Regions from separate parts of the Homo sapiens genome. Here region 2 is linked to region 1. Evidence: fine-mapped expression QTL. Tissue or cell type: whole blood. Region 1 holds a variant in brackets; the other region holds the start of a gene. All regions are shown on one strand. Distances are from middle to middle.

What was found. PIP is the estimated chance that this variant, and not a neighbour inherited with it, causes the effect.
Region 2: it holds the start of HELLS, and the variant in region 1 is fine-mapped to the expression of HELLS in whole blood (INTERVAL, PIP above 0.99).

The regions. Positions count from the first base shown.
Region 1 is chr10:94,497,605-94,500,369 of GRCh38, reverse strand. It overlaps TBC1D12 (TBC1 domain family member 12), which reads right to left. Exons shown (of 13, transcript NM_015188.2): 6 at 43-149. Among named protein-coding and RNA genes, the nearest start is that of HELLS, 47 kb to the left of the region's middle. The variant A/T (reference allele first, on the strand shown) is at 1,293.
Region 2 is chr10:94,544,205-94,546,812 of GRCh38, reverse strand. It overlaps HELLS (helicase, lymphoid specific), which reads right to left and starts at 1,025. Exons shown (of 22, transcript NM_018063.5): 1 at 861-1,025; 2 at 315-436. The coding sequence starts at 891. RefSeq lists enhancers at 96-719, 720-1,344, 1,882-1,931, 1,345-1,969 and a silencer at 1,092-1,171.

The DNA.
Region 1 (2,765 bases):
GCTATTTGTACATGTGGGAATAACTGAACGTAGAATACAAACCAGGAGTGATATTTAGTTCATTTCCTACAGCTAGACTCCAAACTTTCCCACGGACACTAGGGGGCAATCCCTGCCACCACAATTCTCGAACTCTTCTTGTACTACGCCTAGAATTAAAGGAGGAGAAAAAAGGAGAAAGTTACTTTTTATACCAAAAATACTAGTTGCATGATGGATTATCTTTAGTCTATGGCCAAGTGATCAAATCATTTTTAGGACTATAGAGAATTAAGTATGTAATGCATTCTTTTCTTTGCGTTCATGCTTGCAGGCAACAACAGCCTACAAGATGTATAGGATCCCAAAGGGGCAACAGTAATCTAAAGGGAACTGCGTTTTATAAATGTCAATGAGAGAATCAGAAATATGCAGTCAATTATTTAAAAAACAGGATAAAAGGGACATAAAAATGTATCACCAATTCAGCACCAAAAACAAAACAACCAAGAATCTACAGTGGGAAGGCCCTAGTTTTTGAGAAGCAGTAAAGTCTGCTAAAAAAAACTGTCGGCTTTAAAGTCAGATAGATCTGAGATCCAATCTAGTTTAACCATTAATTAAATGTATAACCTTGGGCAAATCACTTAACCTCTCTGACCTTGAGTTTCCTTATAAGATAAATGGGAGTAAAAATACATACACCTTATAAAAGTTCTAAGACTCAAATGCAATTACTTATGTAAAGTGCCTCAGATAATATGTCACACTGTGCCAATATTCAACAAATTCCCAATGTACAAACTACAGTAGGCATTGCAGAAGATATCCCCAACCCTCCAGTCGAGAGGGAAGATAAGGCATATTTTAAAATGTTATGTAAAAAGGCAATAAGAAAGAAATTCTGTCATTTGCAACAACACAGATGAACCTGTAGGATATTGTGCCACGTGAAATAAACCAGGCACAGAAAAATCAACACATAACCTCACTTATATGTGGAATCCAAAAAAGTCAATCTCATAAAAGTAGGGGGTAGAATGGTGGTTATGGCCGGGGAGCGGGGAGTAAAGTGAATGGAGAAAGGTGAGATGTTGATCAAAGGGTACAAACTTCCGTTAGAAGAAATAAGTGTTAGTGACCTATTACATAGAATGGTGACTATAATAAATAATAATGAACTGTATGTTTCAAAATTGCTAAATGAGCAGATTTTAAATGTTTTACCACAAAATACTGAGAAATACGTGAGCTGATGGATGTGTTAATTAGCTTGATTTAATCATTCCATAATGTAAACATATACCAAAACA[A/T]CACATTGCACCAGGCAGGTGGCTCACACCTGTAATCCTAGCACTTTGAGAGGCCAAGGCAGGCAGATTGCTTGAACCCAAAAGTTCGAGACCAGCCTGGGCAACACAGTGAGACCCCATATCTATAAAAAAATACAAAACTTAGCTGGACGTGTTAGCACATACCTGTAGTCCCAGCTACTCAGGAGGCTGAGGCAGGAGGATCACCTGAGCCCAGGGAGGTCGGGGTTGCGGTGAGCCTTGATCTCGCCACTACACCCCAGCCTGGGCAACAGAGTGAGACCTCGTCTTGAAAAAAAAAAACCCTCAAAAAACACATCACGGTAGGGTGCAGTGGCTCACACCTATAATTCCAGCACTTTGGGAAGTCAAGGCAGGCTGATCACTTGAGGCCAGGAGTTTGAGACTAGCCTGGCCAATATGGTGAAGCCCTGTTTCTACTAAATATACAAAACAATTAGCCGGGTATGGTGGCAGATGCCTGTAGTCCCTGCTACTAGGGAGACTAAGGCATAAGAATCGTCTGAATCCAGGAGGTAGAGGTTGCAGTGAGCTGAGATCGCGCCACTGCACTCCAGCCTGGGTGACAGAGGGAGACTCTGTCTCAAAACAAAACAAAAACAAAAACAAAAAAACAAATCACCCTGTACCATATAAATATATACAATTATTATTTATCATTAAAAAGATGCTGGCAAAATAACTTAAAAATGAATAAATAAATGCAAAGGCAAGATAAGTATATTAGTCTCAAAGTATGATGATGGGACATTTACATAAGGGAAAGATCATACATATTTCCTTGATTATGAGATAAACACTTTAAAAATCATTTTAACAATAAGTGCATCTTCTAATACATTTATATATTTAATATTCTCTTTCCAAATAACTGCTATTACATCAATAGTGCGTCTTACAATTGATGGTATGTTAGCATTAAGAAAATACAGTAACTAGGCCGGGCACGGTGGCTCACGCCTGTAATCTCAGCACTTGGGGAGGCCGAGGCAGGCAGATCACAAGGTCAGGAGATCGAGACCATCCTGTGAATGGTGAAACCCCGTCTCTACTAAAAATACAAAAAATTAGCAGGGCATGGTGGCGAGTGCCTGTAGTCCCAGCTACTCGGGAGGCTGAGGTGGGAGAATGGCATGAACCCGGGAGGCGGAGCTTGCAGTGAGCCGAGATTGTGCCACTGCACTCTAGCCTGGGCAACAGAGCGAGACTCCGTCTCAGAAAAAAAAAAAAAAAAAGAAAACACAGTAACCAAAGACATTAAAAGTTTCATAAATCAATTAGCATTTCAGTTGGGTCCCAAAGGATAGGTAAGATTTAGCAGACACCACGGTGAAACCCCATCTCCACTAAAAATACAAAAAAAAAAAAAATTAGCCAGGCGCGGTGGCAGGCGCCTGTAGTCCCAGCTACTCGGGAGGCTGAGGCCAGAGAATGGTGTGAACCCGGGAGGCG
Region 2 (2,608 bases), 47 kb before region 1:
GGATGACAAACGAAAAAACTCACTATGGACTTTGAAAGACTTTTCATGGCTAAACAAGCAATCTGAAATGCTCATTTAAAAGTGATGGGACTACCAAGACTACATCTCATAGAAACACACCATTCAAAGCACTTGCGAAAGGATTCTCAAAGGCAATATCTGTAAACATACAAAAAAGACAAGTAATAAAGCTGTTTTCTTTCAGTTATTAAAAAGCCCACTAAATAGGAAAGCAAAGAACACAAACCACACCTCCGGGTTAAAGCCGAGGTTACCACAGGCTTTCACGACGACGAACCTGATGCCTAAATTACCTTTTCCAGCATCTTCCGCTCTCTCTCTAGTCCAGCAGCTTCAAGCTGTTCTTCCTCTTCTAGCATGGCCGGGGTAATCACAGCAGTGTCCAGTTGTTCAACCATTGCTGGAGCCTCCGAGCCTGACGGGGGAGAAAGCTTTCAAATTGCAGTTTTAAAAAAATTACCAACTACTCAACTCCAACAAGAAACAGCCTTTCTCCCACCCGAGATGCACTGGAGCAAAAGCTGAAGACCGAGGGGACGCCAGCATCACCTCTCAGAAGACACCGTAAGTCTTCACAATGTCTACAAGTCGCCTGGACCACAGTTTACAACTCGGGATGCTCGGGAAAATGCAGTTGCCTATGTGAAATCTTCACCGGCATGCTAATACGTGCGATTCCGGGGTGTCCTCCACTCACCGTTGCAGTTTCCCAACCCTCCTTTCCTCCTCAGTCCCTGCCCGGGGTCGGCTCCCTCCCCGAAACTCCGCCGCAGCCTCCATGCTTGCCCACCTCAGCCCCGCAGGCTGCCACCCGCGCCCAAAAGGTTTTCCTCACTCACCGCCGCTGCCCGCGGGCCGTTCCGCTGGCATGCCTGGACACTCACCCGGGAACCGGGTCCCCTCCTCTCAGAGCCTGCAATGCCGCGAGCTAACTCCTCACAACCGCTGCCGGCCCAGCCTTCTAGCCAAATCCCCCGCCAGGGAAAAAAGCGCGCTTCTCCTTCGCGGGAAAATCCTGTCATCTCGCGATACCTTACATTCCCCACCCGCCCTCCCGCCCCGCTGCGCGAGATTTGGCGCAGCTTGCGGTTTTCGTCAGGACTGACCTGTGGCAACCGTAAACCTTTACCTGGACCTCTCTCAGGAGGAAACTGGGTCCCGCTGCCGAACTCAGCCTGTAACTATCCTGTGAGATTGGGCGAGGTGGCCGATCGTGGAGAACCCAGTTTCCTCACATATCTGGTTCCGAACTACGCAATTAAAGTTTGATAGTGCTGTTAATACTTTGCAAGGCGCCTTCCAACGCTGGCTGCTGTGATTGAGCACCCGCTAGCCCATGATCCTGTAGGTAGAGACGTCTGCGTATCTGCACGAGGATGTCAGAAACAGAAACATTTTTATAGGGCCAGCCTCGCCGCACCCGCAGCGCGCGGCTCACATCTTAAGTGAAAAATCCCCCAAAATGACAAAGAGGAGGGCTTTTTTGTGGGTGGGACGGGAGAGAGAAGGAACAGGAAATTAAGATTATGACTGGGTTAAAGAAAGCTGTTTAGGATAAGGGCAAGCTGAAAGAAGTGATGGACCAAGCGGAGTGGCCAGCAGAAGGAAGATTCAGGAAACCAAACAGGATTCATTCATTCGAGTGGGCAGTGAAGGAAGGAGCGGAGCTTTTCTTGTCCCTGGTTTTCACTTCAGCTTTCAATTCCTCCTTTTCTTGTTTGCATTCCTTTTCAACTATTTCCTTTGTCTCCCTCTCCAGGGCTCCCTTTCCCACCTCCAATTTCTTAAGATGTATGGCATTAAATATACCTACCATGTAACCACCCGTTTCCTTCATTTTGACTCCCACAACTTGTATGATTGTGTCTATACAAAATTTAAGAGTTTACAAGCCGGGTGCGGTGACTCACGCCTGTAATCCCAGCACTTTCGGAGCCCAAGGCGGGTGGATCACGAGGTCAGGAGTTCAAGACCAGCCTGGCCAAGATGGTGAAACCCTGTCTCTACTAAAAATACAAAACAGCCGGGCACGGTGGCAGGCGCCTGTAGTCCCAGCTACTCGGGAGGCTGAGGCAGGAGAATCGCCTGAACCTGGGCGGCAGAGGTTGCAGTGAGCAGAGATCGCGCCATTGCACTCCAGCCTGGGCAACAGGGAGAGACTCCGTCTCATAAAAAATAGAAACGAAACCTAGTCTCTATATTTTATTTTATTAAGATAGGGTCTCACTCTGTCGTCCAGGCAGGAGTGCAATGGCACGATCTCTGCTCACTGCAATCTCCACCTCCTGGGCTCAGTTGATCCTCCCACCTCAGCCTAGCAAGTAGCTGAGACTACAGGTGCGTGCCACCACGCCCGGACATTTTAGTGTCGGACATTAGCCCATTCCAGGCTAATTTTTGTTGGTTTGGGGTTTTTGTGTGTTTTTGTTTTTTGGTAGAGACGGTTTTTCGCCATGTTATCTAGACTGGTCTCGAACTCCTAGGTTCAAGGGATCCTCCCAACTCGGCCTCCGGAAGTGCTGAGAGTGCAGGCGTGACACATTGTGCCTGGCCCCTACAAACATTTCCAAAATTAGCCGGCTGTGGT